Linked DNA regions of Homo sapiens: region 1 is linked to region 2. Evidence: fine-mapped expression QTL. A gene starts in region 2. The other region holds a variant in brackets. All regions are shown on one strand. Distances are from middle to middle. Region 1 has its middle 49 kb from the start of TPRG1. Region 2 holds the start of TPRG1 (tumor protein p63 regulated 1).

The links. PIP is the estimated chance that this variant, and not a neighbour inherited with it, causes the effect.
Region 1: its variant is the best candidate, but not a certain one, in a credible set for the expression of TPRG1 in whole blood (INTERVAL, PIP 0.57).

Annotation. Positions count from the first base shown.
Region 1 is chr3:189,120,015-189,125,406 of GRCh38, forward strand. It overlaps a transcript of TPRG1 not described here. Among named protein-coding and RNA genes, the nearest start is that of TPRG1, 49 kb to the right of the region's middle. The variant G/A (reference allele first, on the strand shown) is at 2,159.
Region 2 is chr3:189,169,445-189,174,836 of GRCh38, forward strand. TPRG1 (tumor protein p63 regulated 1) reads left to right here and starts at 2,527. Exons shown (of 6, transcript NM_198485.4): 1 at 2,527-2,687.

The DNA.
Region 1 (5,392 bases), 49 kb before region 2:
GGAGACAAGTGGTAACCTATTAGACCTGAGAGGGCATCATTAACTGTGCCCCAAACTAAAACATACTAAACGAACAAACCCCAAACAAATATCAGTATCTGTCAGAGGCAGTGGCAATGACCACTATGCTAGGAATGCATTTTAAAATTAGGGTGGGGAGGCTGTGTTGTTTGCAATCCAGTGCTTAACTGGCTCAAAATAGAGTTGGGAATTTTTAGAGCTTTAATATGCTAGATGAAAGAAAACAAGTGACATGATGACTAGAACCGCCACCACTGAATTTTCTAAACTTTAAGAAAAGGCAAGAAAATTGCTTTTAGAAGAAGAGAAGTTGAGAATATGCCCCAGTGAATCCTCCCCACCTGCAGTTATGGTAAATGTCTTTGTTTCAATTAATCTAATGATAATATATTTCATTCTCAGTAAGTTCCAAGATGTAGATTCTGGACAAAGAGTCTGGCATACTGGAAAGGAAAAAATATGTGAATCTTTGGGTCAGTGGTTCATTGAAGAATACTGACATTTAAAAAAATGCTTATAATAATGTGTGTTAAGTGCTATGAGAAAGATATGTGATACAGTGTATTTTGAATTCACATAAATGGAACATCCAACCAGACTTTGAAGGCCAGGAAAGTTGTCCAGAGAAAAGTAATGTCTAGGATTAATCCTAAAAGATGACTGAGGGTTGGTTGGCTAAATAAGGCTGAACAGCCAAACTGTTAAGAGGGCTCAGGAAATTTCATCTAAATTATAGCTGAAAGGCAAACCTGGTAAACCTCGATATAGGTCAATAAATTTTGGTGTGTGTTTTGAAAATCTTCTAAATTCTTCTCATGGTCACACACCCCATCTGAGACCAGGTCTTGTTAGTATTTCTGCAGTTTCAGAGGAATGTGCAGGAAGTGGGAAAATTTAGATAAATAATAAAGCATTTTATTCAATTAAAATTAAGGACATGTGTGGGAAAGCTAAAGGTAAATTATTAGATGACGCAGTACTACATTGAGCAAAAATCTTCTGTCCCAGAATGTGGTAGGTGAAAATAAAGATACAGATCTCTAAATTTTTATTTTCTTAGAGGATAAAACCAAAACAATTATAGAAAGAGTTTAATTATGAAAGGATTTTGTCAGTTAGGTAGATAAACCTGAGAGTTTGTAGATTTTAGTACCTGAAAAATCTCTTTAGGTAGAGTAAATAATCTAATTTACGTAACAGCCCTTGTGGCAGAGACAATGCCCTGTTTTACCACATCATTTCCTCTTCCTGGATACTCCGGAAGACAATATTTCTCAGCCTCCTTGAGGTTAGGTTAGGACTGAGTTTTATGTGATGGAATTTTGGCCAATGGAATGTGAGTAAAAAACCTTGAGCTCTAAAAAATTTCTGACATATTCTGTACCCCTCCTTCTCTTTTTTATGTTGAATTTGGAAGACAGGATTGTTTATTTTGTAGCTAAAAAGCAGAAGCAACTTGAATCTTTGACTCATAGCTTAGAAGAACCACTGAGTAGAACCAATCTATATCAGACTGTAATTGAACAAGAAGTAAATGTTTGTTGTGCTAAGCTACTGCTATTACTGGAATTATTTGTTCTTGAAGCAGAGCCTGATCTATCCTGACAAATGTACTCTTCCTTCCAGAGGTTTCCCCATGCCCTCTTTTGGACTTGATGGGGGTCATTTGGGACAATAAGGCCTGATAACTCCTTGGACTTAGGAAGCGAGAGAGCAGGAATCAAGAAAAGCTTTTGTGTTTTTTGGTTTGTGTAGAAAATATGATGGATTGAGATAAAATTTTTCAAAATAGGCCCAATGAAGAAGAGCAGATTCAAGGAGTAAAGGTATGATTTTAAATTGGACATGTTATGTTGAAAAGATATTTGGCCTTATATCATGCAGGATCTTGTAATTGCCTTTGAGAGAAAGCAGTGTTTTTATATGTCTAATTTTCTTTAGTATCTAGTATTTATATACAATTTATGTTTGTTGATGGGTTGGTTCCCTTAGCTGTGTGTGTGTGTTTGTGTATGTATGTATGCACACATGCCTAGAATTGCTTTGAGTTGTCTATACATTCACATGAAGTACTAGTAGCTTGTTTAAATGACAATAGTATATTTATATTCCTTCTTTCTTTCACTTTCTCTCCGAC[G/A]TCTTTTCTGAATGTTTTTAGTCAGCATGTTCTTACTCTTTTTAAAGATATTTCTCATTAGGTAGATTGTAAAAGCCAACACCAAATGTTAAATCCAAGTTTGTTACACAAGCAGTTTGGAAGGTCAGAATGATCTCCACAAGATGCATACCAGAAGCTAACTCAATTTTTGATTTTCCCAAATGACTTTTCTTGTGAAATCTGGTTTTCACATCTCCCTATGCTTTTCCCCAATGGCCTGCTTTTATATTTCAAAATATAACCAGGACAAAGTATTTTAGAAAAGTTATTGGTTTTAATTTATCTTTGAAATCTCTTGGATTATTCCTGGGCATTTTTTTCCTAGAAGAGTATTTTGCGTAGCATGGGTATTAAAGGAGTCTTTGTTGACTGGTTAAAAGATCTTAGTTAGTTTGAGCTAGAAGAAAACTTACAGATCATCTAGTCCAACCCTGTCCTTTTATCGTTGTGAAACAAAAGCCCAGATAATTGAAATGTCTTGGCCAAGTTCACAAGGTTAGGCTTAGACCTGCTGCTATTACTAATGATGCTGCTCCCTTATTTATGTGCATAAGTTGTCAGTTTCACAAAGCCATCATTTATCTCATTTGTTCCTACGGTAACTATGTGAGATAAGAAATACAGAGATTATCAGTCCTTTTGGTTTTTTAACAAATGAAAAAATTGAGGCCCGGAGGAACTAAGTCAAATAGTTAGATTATCTTACTCATTTATGCACAAATATTGATTGAGCTCTTATTATGTGCCAGGCACTATTCTAGTTTTGTTCTAAAAACAGGCAAATGCTTTGTCCTCCTTGTATCAGGGAGAATGAAAGTGAAAACGCTCTAATAAATAATAGCTGAAATGAGTGAGCTTGCCTTCTCACTTCAGTCCAGTGGTGTTTTTCTCTACATCTCTGCTAATTAATTAAAACAAATAACATTTCTGGTGGATTGATTAATTCTCCTTTACTGAAGAGAAATAGCCCCTTTAAAGAATTTATCCTGTAAAGCATGCAAAACATTTTAGATGCAGCAATAAAAAGAGGGCTTTAGAGAGTTATATAATTTTATGTGCTCAAGAGAATATGGAGAAACATCAGTACATGTTCCCTTTCTCTCCAGCTTTGAGATTTATGATTGGTCTGTTACAATAATAATAGCTGAATATTGGTGCAAGAAATATATTTGATTCAGTGGGTAACATTTGACAGCCTTAACTTGTGAAATGTAGAAAAGTTCTTGCAGGAAGCTCCGGCAGAATGTGTAATGTACAAGAAGGTATTCAGGGAACAGAAAAATAAAATGAAAGGAACCTGCTACCCAATCTGTTTCATTAAATATGAAAATTAAAATGCCTTAACAAAATGCTTTCTCTTCCTCTCTCCTCCCAACAAACAAAAGCTTTGGTAGGCAGCCTGAAATTGCTCATCAAGGAAAAAGACCAGACTCGGATTTTAAATGGCTTCTTCTGAATGAAGCAATTAATGCTAAAAGGAACATGTTGTCTTATCAGCATTTATAAGGTACAACATTCATTGTACTTGCTGGCACTCTATCAAGTCTCTCCTTGGCCTAAGCGAGTAGAGAAATGCTTTGCTGCGTGTGCTCTTGACCTCTGGTAATCGGGAGGATTTGGCTGATAAACTTGACAGGAGTGATTCTCCCTGGGACTGGAAATGTGCCCGGGAAATGTGCTCTGGAGTCTCTCTCGCTCAGACCCTGGCCAGCCAGCCGTGGCAGGCCCATCAAGGCTGGCAACTCACCTATTTGCCAATTAGAGGTGGTACTGCTGTATGATTGTTTAGGATTTGAAATGCATTAGAGTAATGCAGCAGAGTCTTGTCTTTACTTCGTTGTACGTGTTCTGATTATTCAGCTTTTTCAGGTAATATTTTAAGAATATTACCTTCTTAAAGTTACTTATTATTCATTGACTCACTAATTCACGTGTTCATTCAGAGCACATGAATTAATGAGTTCCAGTGTGCCAGAGACAGCTTTGGGGAGGCTCTGGAGTAGGTACACAGAATAAGACATGGTGCTTGTCTTTAAGGAGCCTCAGTCTAACGGAAGAAGCAGGCAGAGAAATTCCTTGTGGCAATAAAACATAGTGGCTTAGAAAAGAAGCATATTTAAAGTGCAAGGGGAGCTCAGAAGGGGTGACAAAAGCTCCATCCTGTATGGTGATTTAAAGCAATGGCTTTCAAACTGTACTGTGACAACCCTGGGAGATGGGGAAAGTGAAAGACATAGATTAACAAGAGAGTTTAGATTATTCTTCTGCTAGATCCCCTCAGAAGAAGGGCTTTCTCTTTTGTTTCACGTATACATATTATGACATTTTTTTTAAGAACAAAGGACTTTGTGTGTGTGTGTGTGTATATATATATACACACACACACATACGTGTACATATATTAATATAGCTTTTCTTCATTAACTCATTTAATACTCTAATAATCTTGGCAGCAGGAGGCAATGTCCTCTCCACTTTATGTATGAGGAAACTATTTATCTTACATGAACATTTGTTATTTCATGGGCATTGCTAAAAATAGTAATCTTTATTTTTTCCTCCATAAAACCAAACTACTGAAATATTTTCACATTCAATTTGGGAAGGTCCACTACTGGCATGGAGCAAGATAAGAAATTGTTCAATGGGTAAATGATGGCAGAGTCTAGACCTATCTTTCTATACAATAACCCATGTTAAATAAATCCAAACTTTTAATTTATTAGCTTGAAAGTTAAATAAACTTTTGACCAAAGTAGTATTAGATCTTGCAATGAGATCTTAAGTGATTTACTTTAATCTGTTCTACCTTCAATTTAGTAGGTAATCTTTTAGGTCTCTCTTCGCTCTGAATGTTTGCTTTTACTTCTTGTTTTCCAATATTGGATGATTTATTTAATTAATTTCTAGGCAACTACATAAAAAAGTCTGCTTATACTCAGACAAAAAGTTTTCTTATTGTTTTTAATGTTTACTTTAAGATAATAATGTAGCATTGGAAGGGAAACCTGTATTATAGAGTCAGAGCAAGTCAAATCCTTGTTGTTCCACAAACAAGACATATAACCTCGGGCAAGTTTCTTTTTCTCCCTTGGCTTCAGTATTCTCAGGTGTCAAATGGAGATATTAATCCCAGTTAACCTCCCGTATTGTTTTTGAGGATCAAAAGAAATGATATAATAGAAATTACACAGTGAATTTATAAAGTACTAC
Region 2 (5,392 bases):
ATGAGCCACCAGGCCCGGCCTGTAAAGGTTATTATAGAAGAGAGAGAAGAGACAGGACACAGAGAGAAATGATCTCTGAAGGCCAATCTGGTAAAAATTATTCTGTGCTTCCCTGCTCCTTGGCTGTTGAGCATGTCCTCTACTGGGAGATCTGTACATAGCCTTTGCTATGCCTGGAAATACAGACATGAAGTGAATTCTTATATATAGCCATATGTTCTGTCATAGTATTGCTTCACATTCATACCAATACTTTGAATTTTACAAAGCTCTTATCACCTCCAGGAGCTCATTTTCTCCCTCAACAGCCCAGGGAGGTTGGTGGGATCTGTACTGTAACTCCCATTGCACGGAAGAGGCAATCAAGGCTTGGGGAAAACTAAGCTACTTGCCTCTGATCCCAGTGAGCAGCTGAGCAGGGACCAGAGCTGAGGTTTTCCGTGTGGCATTACTCCTACTGCTTGTGCCCCTCCTGGATGTATTATGTTACTGCAGGCTGCAGTATGGCGGAGCTCAGCATGAGCTGGGAGGAGTGTTCAGTGGCCGCTGGAAACCTAACGATAATTAGATGGATGCCGTGTGAACAATTGATGTCTTTTCACAGAGTTTCTTGCCCTTTAAAATAGCATACTTCAAACAGCAGTGCATTGCTTAGTCCTTCTCTTAAGAGACCAGGCTGGGATCCAGCATGTCTCCACTCCTCCTGCCTTTTGTGCCCCCACCCTGAGCTGTCATAAAGACATTTGGAGCTGAGTGGGAACGGTATTTGCCTCGCAATTATTTCTAATTGCCCTGTAGTTTTGTGGCGTCTAAGTGGTGTGACCTAGATACCGGTTCTGTAAAACTCTCTTTTCAGCCTGGGGTCTGTATTAGGGAGGGGGCATAAATCAGTTTGATCAGGTAACTGTGGCTGAGTCCATCTCACCAATAACATTTATACCCAACTCTACCATCTGTGCTTGTTGAAATCCTGGCTCTTCTTAACAGCCCGGATCTAATGCCGCCTCCACCGCTGTGCAGCCTTCCTGGAGTTGCTCCCTCCTCTGGATTACCATAGTACTTGTTAGGATCCTGTCTGTGGTGCTCATCATCTTCTATATCGTGCAATGCTAATTCACTTACAAATTTTATCTTCTTGAGCTCCTTATGCCAGAGAATGTGTTTGGTTCCTTTTCATATCCTTGTCTATGTGGATAACTGAGAAAGCTCAAGGTAGTTGCTCAGTTAACTACTGTTGAGTTAGTATACATGACGTCCTCGACACGGTGGAAGCAGGTAAAAGGACTGTTTATTCATTGTGACCTCTCCTGAGTGGCGAGTTGCCAGTTTGCACTTCATTTCCTGTGGAATCGCTTCATGACCTCAGTATTCCTGGAACTTTAAACAACATTTTTTGAAGGGTGAATATTAGTTATTTTTCTTTTAAAAGAATGGAATTCAACCAATTTACTTTGTCAGCGCACACCCGTTCCTCCAGCCATCAAACAAATACAATCTGATTTGGCCAGAGTCTGCTGAATGAAGTAGAGAATTTAGGATAGAAGATTGAAATTCAATCATACACATAACAGCATTTTGTTTTCTGTGCTCTCCTTTCTTTCAGCAATCCACCTACTTGTGCAGTTCATACTTTATTTTATACCAACTCTGTATGTAGAACACACTTGCTTAGGTTTCAGAATGTGTTCATTAAGATTCTATTTCATTTTTTTAGCACCGTTGCTATGTCAAATCTTATCCTAGGTTTATTCTCATATGCTTCCTTTCAAGTTCTATCTGCATTTCTGAAGGAGAAATGATACTCTCAACTTACAGATGACCAAAATTAAAAAACCTCAGAAAGATAGATTATGACTTGCTATAGGCTGCAAAGCCATTAAATGACAGATCAGGATTCACTAAATAGATATTAATGGATCATCATTAATTCAATGTGTATTTATTTATTACCTACTATCTGCTGGGTGTTTTGAGGAGTATATGAGAGAATAAGATGTAGCATTGCCCTCAAGGGGCCCCCCATCTAGGGAGGGGGATACACACTTACATAGAGACAATATCATGTGGCACATTTCCTAATAGGAATACTGACCAGAGATTGTGTGTACATGTGTTTGTTTTCAGAGATACACTGCTCTACATGTCTTCTACATTTTTGACAAGAGTGGTAGTGATGCTTAAAATCACAAATATCCAATAAATCAAGCCATCATAAAGAATATTAATGATAGGAGTGTAGGCCTCAGGCTTAAGCTTAATTATAACTACTTGGAGGCATACAGAAGCCATGGAGGAATGGATGATAGGCTGCTCCTGCTCCCTCAGCTGGATGTGTATTAGAGGGAGTTGGCAGAAAAATGCAGGACTTCTTGAGGGAGAGGACAGGAGGTAAAGGTGTGTCATTGCAGAACAAGAAAGGCCCCACCCACAAACCCAATTCTCTGCCTCTGACGGGTTGAGTTCCACCCTGTAAACATCCTCAGTCCTTTCATTTGACTATTTGAGGGTGGCAGTGTAACTCTCAGCCTACTTGGTGAAGTGAGATTCAGACTGAGTGGGGTCACAGCACAGGGCACTGTCTTGCCTGGCTTTATCTGAGCCAATCACACCTCTCCTGGCCACTATCTGTGGTCTAGCCCCCTTTGTGCAGAAAGAGAAAGAAGAGCCTTGAGGACCAGCCTAGTCAGGTAAGATCAAGTGGCTTGTCACTGGTTCTGCAGAGATGGGTTATTTCTCTATGAACCAATTGCTTCTGTCCCCTAAGCCGAGTTTCTGGTCACCTCCCCCACTGACTTGCAGTTTGGTTTAGGTTTGTAGTTTTGCATTACCATGTGAAATTTCCCTATTCTTCCTTACTGTCCAGGGTTGATGAGGCTTGTAGGCTAGCATTTTTTAGCCTATAAAGCCACTTGACATACTTATCTATATATTGATTTTGATCTTAACTGCCCTATAGTGCAGTAGGATGGGTATAATTTTCTCCATTTGGTGGCTTAGTGAACTGAAGCTTGGTCAATTGAAGTGATTTGTTCCAATTGGATCAGCAGGTTAAGGCCAAGATTAGATTTGATTCCTTCTTCCCTCTTCCTCTATTATAGAACCCAGCAGGTCATACCTTATCCCCAAAAGCCAAAAGAAGTGAAAAGCCTTTCTGAACCGTTAAATGGCAAACAAAAGGTGATTATTTCTTTGCAGGCAGTTTGAGAGGGTTATTTTTGAATTCATCTGAGGGAAATTTCATAATAATATATAGGTCCCATCAAACAGGGCTGTTTTTAGAGAACAAACGAGGGCATGTATGTAAAGGGGAGTTGTAAACTGAAAGGTGATAGGCAAATGAGACAGCGATGACTACTTGGCGCCTGAGACATCCTCCAGATCTCTGTATAAGCAGGTTTTAATTCGGGGCTAAATGACACTCTCCAAATGTCAGAGGCAGCGTAGTGAGGCACAGATCATACAGGCCCTGGGGAAATATTTTAGCTTTTCAGTCACACTGTGGTATGTAGAAAAGCAAATCTCAATGGGGGAAAAACACCCCCAAATCCTTTCAAATACACTCATGCAATTTCCTCTCTTGTGACAGCTATCATAGTATCTCATTGTTCTACAGTTTTAAGGAAATCTCATCTTCAGTTATTATGTAGTTTACTTTTTAAGATGCTAATTTTAGCTATCATTTTTCTTTTCATGCTCAAAAGGTTATATCATTCTTAGTTGTGGAAGGAAATGTTTCCTCTGTGTGTGTGTGCATGTGTGTATGTGTGTGTGTGTCTGTTTGAGTTTATTATGACAGTACTGATAGTCATCCCTTGGGGCCACCACAAATGCATTGGGTTGTAATGCTATATAATCTTTGGCAGACTTCTATATATTCTTTTTCTTTCTTTTCTTCTTCTTTTTTTTTTTTTTTGAGACAGAGCCTTGCTCTGTTGCCCAGGCTGGAGGGTAGTGGCGCGATCTCGGCTCACTGCAGCCTCCACCTCCCGGGTTCAAGCGATTCTCCTGCCTCAGCCTCCTGAGTAGCTGGGATTACAGGCATGCACCACCACACCTGGCTAGTTTTTGTATTTTTAGTAGAGACGGGGTTTCACCATGTTGGTCAGGCTGGAACTTCTATATATTCTTGGTGTCTTTCTGGCTGTAAGGATCCTGAAGAAATCGTTTAATTGATTACTTTATTCAAAACAGAGAAACTGAGGCCCAGAAAGATGAAGTGATATGCACAAGTCACACAGCCAGTATCATTGGAGCTGCAAGTCACATATGGGTCTCTTACTCTTTCATTGCCCACAATATGTAGTGAATGGTGCTAGGAGTCCCAAGCAGAAGCATTAGCCATGTCATTTTGGAGACTGTAACTAGATGTCCTTTAAGATTTCTTCCAATTAAGAGTTTTAGGGCACTTTGACCTTTGCTTAGCATCTACTGGAGATGGTATCATGCCCTTTAGAGCAGGGAAATCTGTCAGAGAAGCCTCTCTCTTTATTGACTTGGTTCTTCTGGAATATTTGCTTCGGCCAAATGTTGGAGCTGCTCCTTAGGTATAAGATGGGGAGATGGGCAAGAGGTGGTGGCATCTTCATTTTCTTCAGCCTGTCTGGATTTTTATATTTTCTGGGATCTTCCTAAATAAGTGCCACTCAGTTTGATCCTTTTAAAACTTGAAGTGATAGTTGATATTTTACTCAACATTGTTTAATCTAATGGCAGCGTCAAGTCCGAGAATTCATTTACTCCAGAGCTTGCAGAGCAGCAGCCACAGGTGAATCCAGCATGCAGATGTGCTTTGTTTGTGCTGCCATGTTAAACAAGATAAAACTAGTTCCAAAGTATTTGATATCTAGGAAATTTCCTGTAAAAAATCCAGATATCTTGTTTTCAGGAAGATCAGGAGATCTGATAATAATGGACCCACATCCCCTCATGGATAACACCTGTGCTGGGGCCGGGCAGCAACTTCTTCCTGTAGATAGAACATGTTTTCCCCCATCCTCCACAGCTCCCATTTTACCTGATTTAGGCTACCAAGTGTTTGAATTTTCCACTTCTGATCTCTTCCAATCTCTTAGGTATTAGGATTCCTTTCAATCATTCTCTTTCAACGGAAACCTAGTTCTACATAATGACAGACCAGGCTACAGGTTAATGGCACCAGGGAAGAGGTGAAGTTAATTATTTGTTCCTAACCTCTCACTATGTAAGAGATATAGGATATATGATGACTTCAGTAGAACATACCGTTGGCTCTGATACCTACCCAGGATATTTTCTTCAGCTAGCTATCAAAACTCAGTGACTTGAATGCTAAAGTATTAAGCAAGATGACACTGCTGCAGCATAATATTTAGATGCCTATAAAAGAATAGGAAGGACAGTTGATACTTGCAGG